Linked DNA regions of Homo sapiens: region 2 is linked to region 1. Evidence: fine-mapped expression QTL. A gene starts in region 1. The other region holds a variant in brackets. All regions are shown on one strand. Distances are from middle to middle. Region 1 holds the start of SPG21 (SPG21 abhydrolase domain containing, maspardin). Region 2 overlaps SPG21 (SPG21 abhydrolase domain containing, maspardin).

Region 1 (5,000 bases):
AGCCCCGTCTCTACTAAAAATACAAAATTAGCTAGGCGTGGTGGCACATGCCTGTAATCCCAGCTACGCAGGAAGCTGAGGCAGAAGAATCACTTGAACCCGGGAGGCAGAGGTTGCGGTGAGCCGAGATCACGCCATTGCACTCCAGCCTGGGCAACGAGAGCGAAACTCCATCTCAAAAAAACAAACAAAACAGCAACAACAACAAAAACAAATTAGCTGGGCGCGGTGATGGGCTCCTGTAATCCCAGCTACTTAGGAGGCTGAGGCAGGAGAATTGCTTGAACCTGGGTGGCGGAGGTTGCAGTGAGCTGAGATCACACCACTGCACTCCAGCCTGGGCGACAGAGTGAGACTCTGTCTCAAAAAACAAACAAACAAACAAACAAAAAAACCTGCCAGTTGTGACTATGCCCCTATCCCTCATGGCTTCAACAGAACCTGCCACTTTAAAGTCAACAAAATCACCTTTATCAATGTTTAAGTCACATAACCAGCATAATTAGTCAGAGGTTTCTGCTACTTTATTTCAATCTATAGTTGATGTGCATTGTGGAAAATCTGTGCTTATAAATACTAGCCATAACAAAATATTAGAAGCTGAGAGTCTCTGGGAGATGCAACTGGCTTTTTAATGCACGTCTCCATCCCTCACCACAGAAGTACACAGCTATCCTTTTCTTAGATCTCTTCAGGGGAGATCTATCCCTCTTTTCTTCATTGCATTATCTCTAAACCTTACAGGAGGAAAAGGTGCCTACCTGACATCTGTGACATCTCTTCTCATGCTCTTGGGAAAAAAGCTTTTGGAATTTGGACACAGCTATTAAGTTACTCCTCAGTGGCCAGCCGCGATGGCTCACGCCTGTAATCTCAGCCCTTTGGGAGGCCGAGGCGGGCGGATCACGAGGTCAGGAGATCGAGGCCATCCTGGCTAACACGGTGAAACCCCGTCTCTACTAAAAATACAAAAAATTAGCCGGGCGTGGTGGCGGGAGCCTGTAGTGCCAGCTACTCGGGAGGCTGAGGCAGGAGAATGGCGTAAACCCAGCAGACAGAGCTTGCAGTGAGCTGGGATGGCGCCACTGCACTCCAGCCTGGGCGACGGAGCGAGACTCCGTCTCAAAAAAAAAAAAAAAAAAAAAGTTACTCCTTAATTTGTTGAATCTTTGTGCCAAAAGGAGCTGAACCAGTGTAGGTGGAGACAAAGGAAGCAGCATAAATGTCTAACTTATAACTCCCCAGGAAAACGAGAAGAGGAAAAATGAGACACTCCGGTCCCGCTCTGTTCCTCATCCCCCGTTTACAAACCTTACACCTGGCCCACACTCAGTAACAACAAAGACATCTATCACTTTCAGGCCGAGGTCCTGTCTCCAAAATTACTGGCCTCTGCTCACAGTTCTTAAAAGTTTGCTGAGAAAAAAAAAAAGAAAGAAAGAAAGAAAGAAATGTTCCTGGGCTGCAGTCGTGTAGCCCCAGGATGGGTTTACAGGAGGATGCCCCGGTTAAGCCCTGTGCCGCCCCCACCTCCCGCTGGAGACTCACACACAGCTCCCCGCCAGTCCCACCGGTGACAGCCACACAAAGGCAGGGTCACAAGCACACCGACCACCCCACAGCCCAGATTCGGCCCCAGACACACACTCACAAGGGCACGTGATCACGTGCGTGGTCACATGGACCGGCCCACTCAGAACACACTCACAAAGTCACACCAACCAAGGCAGCCACGCGCCACACACACACACCTACAACCCCGCATACCGCACACCCAGCCGCTTCCCAGGGCTTCGCCCACCCTCACCTGCCGTGGCCGCCCCCACGTCCCTTCCCCTCCTTCAGGAGGCCGCTCTTCGCTCCAGTACGAGCGCGGGCCGTGGAGGCGGCTGGGCCCGGGTCGGGGCGGGCGGCGGAGCACTCGGGACCCACGGGCACAGCAGGCTGCGCGGTGCGTGCGGGAGGCCGGCCTCTGAGGGGGCGGGGCGCGTGGCCGAGCGAGCTTGGGCCGCCGCGCTCCCCCCGCCCGACCGCCGCTCAGCTGGCGCGAGACTCCCGCTTCCGGGTTCTCAGAGGGCGGGGCCACGTCGCGAGGAAGGGGCGGTGCTGCGTGGCCCCGGCGGTCGCCACGGCGACGGGCGCGGGGGGAGGCTCCGTGGGATGCTTGGCTGCGGCTGGCGTGAGGAGAGGGCTGAGTTACGTCTGGGTCAGCCTTAGTTCTGCCCTACGTACCTAGGAGGAGGAGGAGGTGGAGGAGGCGCCTGGCCCCTTGGGACCTGCTTCTTCTTTCAGTTCGCGTTTTCTCTGTCGTGTACAGCTTTGGAGGGACACCTTTGGGTTCCAGACTTTGATGAACACAACTTTGTATACTCTTTTCTTAGGAACATTTTTTTTCCTTTGGCACAACCGTAGACGCTCTCCGTAGTCCTCCACTCAAAGCCTCCGCTTCCTTTTTGACGTTCTGGGGATTTCTGGGAACATACGCCCACCCATCTTCCTGTTCCTTCATCACTTTTCCCTTAAAATCAGAGAGAATATTAATACATTTGTAATCATTGTTCTTAAGGTGTTGCAGACGTCACGTCTTAAGGTGTTCCAGACTTCACGACTCCTTTTTTATTAGTAAAATATTTCTGAAATTATGATAAGGTGAATAACATGTAAATCTCCTTGTTTTGAATTTTTTTTTTAGGGATCCTGCAACAAGGTCCTGTTGAAAGTGCCTCTCTCTAATATGTTTTAGGGAAAGCTTGTACCCTGTTTTAGGGCCTGTAGACTTTGCCTTTACCTAGGCAACTGTTTATGGGATTAAGGTCAGGGAAGATTCCAACTAAATTGCATCCTACTTAGTTATCACTTCTGTCCCCTGGCCCAGGAGCCTTGGGTTCCACTCTAGAACTTGGACAAATCCCAAAAGCATTTTCCAAAAGCACGGTGACATACTTACCTTTTTCTTTCTTTCTTTTTTTCTCTAAATCATTTCTTTCGGGGTTGCAACTCAGTCGCAGGAATTCATCTTTTATTGTAAGCACCACATAGATGTATAGAGCACGTTTCCGTGGAGTATTTTAAGTTGGGGGCCTTTTCTCCAACATTTGGAATCGTTTAATGGGTGGAATAACTTGCAAACTACTGGTTGTCTCTGAAACTGGTTATGGATATTCATTACATTAGTTGTCTATTTTCCCAGGTGGTCTCGAAGCTTCAATCTAGAGCAAAGGGAATAGAGTGATTCCACCAGTCCATTAGCACATGATTAGCCCATAAATAATAGGTACTAAATGTATATTGATTGTAATCCCAGCACTTTGGGAGGCCAAGGTGGACGGATCGCTTGATTGAGCCCAGGAGTTCGAGACTAGCCTGGGCAACCTGGGAGACCCTGTCTGTACAAAAAAATACAAAAATTAGCCGGGCGTGGTGGCGCATGCCTGTAATCCCCGCTACTCAGGAGGCTGAGATGGGAGAATCTGTTAAGCCCAGATGTCGAATCCACTGCACCACATCCTAGGTGACAAAGCGAGAGACCTTGTCTGCTCCCAACAAAAAACTATATTGAATGAATTAATGAGTGGAATAAATAAATCTATCCCCATTTCCACATTTGTTCCTAAAGCTGTATTCCTTAGACCCCATCCCTAGACCCCATTTAGTAACAGCTTTAATGAGACCTAATCTATGGATATACCCGTATGTTAAAAGTCATTGTTCTGTTAGTGTGGTAGTAAACTTTGACAATTGACAATAAAAAAAAATCACTATGTAGATATGTTTTGTTACATATCAACTTTTATTACAATGTAGACCAATCCAAAAATAATAAATGTTTTACTTCTTTCAGGAAGGGAAACCATGGTCATGTTTGTGTCCTCAGTTGTTCCATAACACATGGCAAGCACATTGTCCCTTTCCTAATCCCAACAAAGAACATTTAATATCTGTGAATTCCAGCTGAATTGTAATGCACAAATTCAGGCAGCAAACTTTTGATTCAGGCAGGTCCCAGTGCAGGCTGACCTGGTAGACATGGCTGTAAGGATTTGCAGCTGTTGTGGCTGGGGTCTGCCAGATGGTTCCCACAGCACCAATTCATCTGTGAGAATCTCACAGAAAAACTGGAATGTTCACAAAATATGCTGTGAACACCAAGCAAAGTAAACAGATGGCCAGCTGGCTCTCAGAATTACCCAAACCCGGGCTCTGTCCCTCTTAATTTATCTTTTCACAGGATAATATTTGTTTGAAAACACACAAAATAATCCCAGATCCAGAAATATCCCTATGCATGTGTATACATAAGTGAATGCACTTTTTTTTTTTTTTGAGACGGAGTCTTGCTCTGTTGCCAGGCTGGATTGCAGTGGCACATCTCAGCTCATTGCAACCTCCGCCTCCCGGATTCAAGCTATTCTCCTGCCTCAGCCTCCCGAGTAGCTGGGTCTACAGGTGCCTGCCACCACACCCAGCTAATTTTTGTATTTTTAGTAGAGACGGGGTTTCACCATGTTGGCCAGGATGGTCTCGATCTCTTGACTTCGTGATCCTCCCGCCTCGGCCTCCCAAAGTGCTGGGATTACAGGCGTGAGCCACTGCGCCCAGCTGTGAATGCACTTTTTAAAATGTTTGGAGAGGTATGTACCAAGCAGCTAAGTGATTACCTCGGAGGAGGAACTGGGGATGGAGGGAGTGGTGAAGAACTTTGACTTTGGATTTAATAGTTGAGTTTATATTAAAATGTATTCATATATTATCTGTGTGATCAAAATAATTAAAAGCAGCCAGGCATAGTGGCTCATACCTGTAATCCCAGCACTGAGGGAAGCCAAGGCGGGTGGATCACTTGAGGTCAGGAGTTCGAGACCAGCCTGGCCAACATGGCAAAACCCCCATCTCTACTAAAAATACAAAAATTAGCCGGGTGTGGTGGTGCACACCTGTAATCCCAGCTACTGGGGAGGCTGAGGCAGGATAATCACTTGAACCCACCTGGGAGGCGGCAG
Region 2 (5,527 bases), 29 kb before region 1:
GGGTGCAAACAACTATGGGACTCCTTCCTGGGGGAAGGAAGAAAGGAAGGGGAGGAAGCAGCTCACAGAGGAGACAGAAGTGGGGAAAAGGGCAGTCCAAGCCAACAGCACAGCCTAAGCAATAGCCCAGAGGTGTGGAGAGGGACCCCCCACCTTGGGGAGTAGCGTGGCTGGAGCACAGGATGCGTGGAAGGAGGGGGAGCTGTGACCTGAGGGGCAGGAGGGGGAGGGGTGCAGATGCATTGGAAATTGTTCCCCACCCCATCACCAAAAATTAGATGTCTCATAAAGTAGAAACTGAACAGAATAGACTCCGCCTTTGGAAATGCACATCTGCTTGTCCTTTCAGAGTCTACTTTACCTTGCTAATTGTGACTCTCCTTGTTTCTAAAATGTATATTTAAATCACTTTTCCAATGGATATTTACTTACAGTTACTCCCTCCCTTTTCTTTGAGACGGAGTCTTCCTCTGTTGCCAGGCTGGCGTGCAGTGGTGCGATCTCGGCTTACTGCAGCCTCCGACTCCCTGGTTCAAGCGATTCTCCTCTTCAGCCTCCCAAGTAGATGGAATTACAGGCACATGCCACCACGCCCAGCTAATTTTTTTTTGTATTTTTAGTAGCGATGGGGTTTCAACATGTTGGCCAGGATGGTCTTGATCTCCTGACCTCGTGATCTGCCTGGGTTGGCCTTCCAAAGTGCTGGGATTGCAGGCGTGAGCCACTGTGCCTGGCCCCTTTTTAAGATATATACTGTACTTAAAACTATTCACATATAGTCTGCAGGTTTATATACTTAAAAAGTGCGAAGTCTTTCTCCTGTGGATCCCAAGATAACTTCTAGAAGCGGGTACAGGCCCTGGATCACATCATGTATCAAAATGAACCCATAAAACTCCCAGGTTAAGAACTGAGGTGAAGGAGTCCCTGGCTCTTAGTGGAGGTTGCTCCCCGCATCTCTTCCTGTGTGCAGAGCTTCACTAAATGGTTACAGCCCCACTTCAGAGTTTCTGAAACTAGTCTGATTTCCACAACAGAGGTCCCTTAGTGTTCATGCACTGGCAAGTGACAAGATCAGACCTGTGTGTGGACCACACAGAGGATGGGTGGGGGTGGGAGGAGATGGCTGGTGGAGCCAGTGAGGACTGTAGTAGTCTGGGCAAAAGATGCCAAGGCCTAACTTGTAGTGAGGAAGGCTCAAGTTTGCAGGCAAGTTGCTAGATCTCTGAGAGTCAGGGGATATAGGTGTAGTAGATGTGGAAATGCATTGCCCGGACCCCCTTCTTCCAGGAAGGCCTTTCCATCCAGCTGCAGGAGTGAGCTGGGCAGATGGCCTCCAGCTGTCAGCCCTTCAGGGTCTGCCTCAGCTGCAGAGAGTTGCCCCACCCAACACCCTGCCCTCCCCAGGGCAGCTGCCTCTGGGAACTGAGCTACGCGGGAGCATAGAGACCCAGCCATTTTAGTCCTCCATGAAAATATTCCAGTGGGTGCTTCAAGCTCCTGCGTGCCCTACTGAGTTGGTGGGTACTTGATCGGGCCTGCATCACAGTTCAATTTCGCTCTCTGCCCAATCCATCTTCCCTTCACAGATGTTGTTTTTTTGTTTTGTTTTGGAGATTGAGTCTCACTCTGTTGCTCAGGCTGGAGTGCAGTGACACCATCTCAGCTCACCGTAACCTCTGCCACTCTGGTTCAAGTGATTGTCCTGCTTCAGCCTCCTGAGTAGCTGGGATTACAGGCACGTGCCGCCAGGTCTGGCTAATTTTTTTGTATTTTTAGTAGAGACTGGGTTTCTCCATGTTGGCCTGGCTGGTCTTGAACTCCTGACCTCAGGTGATCCACTCCCCTTGGCCTCCCAAAGTACTGGGATTACAGGTGTGAGCCACCACACCAGGCCACAGATGTTGATCCTTAATAAACATCTTGCACCCAAATTTTCATCTCTGCATCCGCTTCAGCCTGAGACATGGGGGTGGAGGAGTGAGTGGGGGTGGAGGGTCCAAGATGGCTGAGTTTCTAACTGGGGATTCCAAGAAATAGTGATGCCAGGACCTAAGAAAATGGGGCTAGAAGAGGAAGGGCAGGTTTGGGCAGTGGGGCCATGGGCATAGCTTTTGACTGGTTGCCTGTCGAAGGCTGAGATGCCTGTTGAAGGCTGGCCTAATAGGCCTGAGTACGCATTCAAGGCCAGTACTCAAAATTGATCAGGGCTGGCAATGACAACTTGCAGTCATCAGGGGGCAGAGCTGGGGAGTAGTTAAAGTTGTTAGACGGCTCTAGTAGCCTCAGACGCTACTAGTTAAAATGTCAAGCTTCGCCCTTATGGTTTACCAAGTGTTTCCATAACTCATGACTGTTGTCAAGCCACAGATAGAGAAGACAATGTGGCCCCTTTGTGGAAAGATCACTGGCTTTAGGGATGGTCAGATTCAAGGTGGCATCCCAGCTCCACCCCTTACTGCCTGACCCAGTCTCCAGGTCCTCA[C/T]CTGTAAAGTCAGGATAATCAGGGCTGTATTGGGGATGAAGTCTAAGAAGGTATGGCCAACCCAATATTCTGAAACCTGGCACATAAAGGGAAAGAAGCACTGATGCTTATTTTTCTGTCTAAATTGTATCTCAGCGAAACCAAGCAGTCGATGAGGGCAAGTTTTTGTTTTTTTAAATCGGTAATTTCCAGTTAATAAATGCAGAAGGAATGATAAAAATTAATATTATCACTGACCTGCAACCCCTCATGGAATGATGCACCTGTGCAATGGTCAGCAGTGGCAGCTAAGCCAGCAGGGGACTTTCTCAGGACTGGATCAGGCTGGTGATGCCTGAACACACCCAGCAATCATAATAACTTAGACACAACCAGACAGATGCCTCCTGAGATGACGCGAGAGAAACACACAGCCCCATCTATGCAGTGTTCCTGCCAAAAAGATCGAGCTTGACCTGATCAAGCCTCTTGATGTAACTACCAGTTTACAGGAAATACCAGGGACAGAGAAACAAGTGGAAGGACACCATGAGGCCACAGTCAGCCAAATCTGGACTGTGGGGCAACTACAGGGCAAATGAACCTGTTTCTTCACTGAATATATGGCAAGAAAAAATAGAGGGAGGAGGAGCTTCCAGTTCAAAAGAGATCTAAGAGACAAAGTGTGGGCTTTATATGATTAGAACAAGTCACCTATAAAAAAAAATTTATGGAATAATTGTGAGTGACAACATTCACTGGATTATTAGACAATCCAGTGAAGGAATTATTGGTAAATAATTGAAGGAATTATTGGTAAATTTTTAAGTGTGATAATGGTATTAAGGCTGTATCTTAAAGGTACACATAGAAATATTTACAGATGAAATGACACAGCACCAGAAATGGCTTTAAAATAATTTAGTGATAGGAGCATGTGTGGAAGAAACGTGGGTAGGTTAAAAGATGAACAAGTCCGGGCATGGTGGCTCATGCCTGTAATCCCAGCACTTTGGGAGGCTGATGTGGGCAGATCACCTGAGGTCAGGAGCTCGAGACTAGCCTGACCAACATGGAGAAACCCCATCTCTACTAAAAATACAAAATTAGCCGGGCGTGGTGGTGCATACCTGTAATCTCAGCTACTTGGGAGGCTGAGGCAGAAGAATTGCTTGAACCCGGGAGGCGGAGGTTGCGGTGAGCCGAGATCACGTCATTGCACTCCAGCCTGGGCAACAAGAGCGAAACTCTGTCTCAAAAAAAAAAAAAAGAAAAGATGAACAAGACTGTCTGAGAGTTGATAATTTTTGAAGCTGGATGATGGGAACATCATTCATTATGCCATTTTCTCTACTTCATGTGGGTTTAAGCATTTTCACTCAGGGGAAAGAAGACGAGAAAAGTACCTGGCACACAGTAGCAGATCAATAAATGATAGCTTAGGGTTATTTTATGATGTGCAAACTGTACTTCAGGGAGATTAAGTAACTTACCCAAAGTCACACAGAATTGGCAACCATGACCTACTTCTCAGAAAGTCCTAGGCCTGTGTAGCCCAGTTGGGCAGCAACAATAATCACAAAAGCGACTCAGTTAAATTGAATTTTTATTCCAAATGACTAATATCTAGAAAGGCAGTAGCTAACACTCAAAACAATTTGTTTAAGTGTAAATTAAAAGCAGTTGATTTGCAGGAGAGCAAACAGTGGGGTAGTGGCCATGGCACTCTGATCATGGTTATATCCAAGAAAGCATAAAATAACCAATGTCCTGATATGCAATCTGGATGTGCAGCATTTACAGCAAACAACATAAAAAGAAAGAAAGAAGAATGGAAAAGAAAAGAAGAAAAAAACCACCACAAAGTCCCAAACCTCAGAAATTAACATTCACTTAAGAACACAGTGGTGAAGACTTTTGGTAGCAAAATTTGCACGGTTCTTAAAATGGGAGTCTTCAAAAGTACTTCTTCAAATTCAAAAGCTAAGAAAACCAAAGAGGGAACAGTTACACAGGCTTAGTGGAGATGCCGCCTGTCATGAAGATGACCATCAGTCCTACTTCCCAGACACAGTGAGAACCGGTGAGCCTGACGAACCTGAAGGAAAAGGCTGGCTGACGGGTGCTGATGCCACTGACTATACAAGAACACACCGGGTCAACTCATCATTGACAGCGAGAGACACACTACTGCTCCTCCTGGCTGATGCCAAGGCTGCCTTTCTGCACCTCAAGCTCCTCGGCACTGACCATTGATGGGTCAATGGCCGCGTATTTGGTTCCATGGAATTGCAGCAAATGTATCTGTTGAAATGCAGAATCATTATTTTATTTATTTTTTGAGCTGGAGTGTCACTCTTGTTGCCCAGGCTGGAGTGCAGTGGCACTATCTTGGTTCACTCCAACCTCCGCCTCCCGGGTTCACCCAATTCTCCTGCCTCAGCCTCCCGAGTAGCTGGGATTACAGGTGCCCGCCACCATGCCCAGCTAATTTTTGTATTTTTAGTAGAGACAGGGTTTCACCATGTTGGCCAGGCTGGTTTTGAACTCCTGGCCTCAAGTGATCCATCTGCCTCGGCCTCCCAAAGTGCCAGATTACAGGTGTGAGCCACTGCACCCTGCCAGAATCATTGTTTTAAATGGCTGCATTACAGAGTAAAATGTATACTGCCTTCTATAAAAAGTTTGGTAGGAAAACATCACCATAGTGGACAAATGTTTTATACTTCTAAAATTTACAGACTAAGACATACTAAATAGAGAAAAGTCAAACAATTTTTTGAAACCACATTTGGGATCTTTGTTCCTCACTCCCTGAGCAGTCTCCCTGAGTCCCTGCAGAGTCTCCTGAGACATCTTAGATGGTGCATGCTCATGAGATGTTTACCCTTCCCTTCTGCTGCTGTGAGTTAGGTCCTTCCAATCTTCTGCTACTGTGACTAGTGCTGCTATGATGAATATCTCTGGGCATCAAGTATTCCTGTTTAGGATCCTGTCTTCTATAAGGGGATGACAGGATCAAGGGATATGACTGGTTTTTGGGATTACAGGTGTGAGCCACCA

The links.
Region 2: its variant is fine-mapped to the expression of SPG21 in blood mononuclear cells (TOPMed, PIP above 0.99).

The regions. Positions count from the first base shown.
Region 1 is chr15:64,987,858-64,992,857 of GRCh38, forward strand. It overlaps SPG21 (SPG21 abhydrolase domain containing, maspardin), which reads right to left and starts at 2,057. Exons shown (of 9, transcript NM_016630.7): 1 at 1,808-2,057. RefSeq lists enhancers at 1,264-1,765, 1,766-2,265, 2,321-2,390, 2,431-2,490 and silencers at 1,494-1,788, 1,591-1,640, 1,761-2,250.
Region 2 is chr15:64,958,969-64,964,495 of GRCh38, forward strand. SPG21 (SPG21 abhydrolase domain containing, maspardin) reads right to left here. Exons shown (of 9, transcript NM_016630.7): 9 at 4,054-4,768. The coding sequence ends at 4,652. Among named protein-coding and RNA genes, the nearest start is that of SPG21, 28 kb to the right of the region's middle. The variant C/T (reference allele first, on the strand shown) is at 2,486.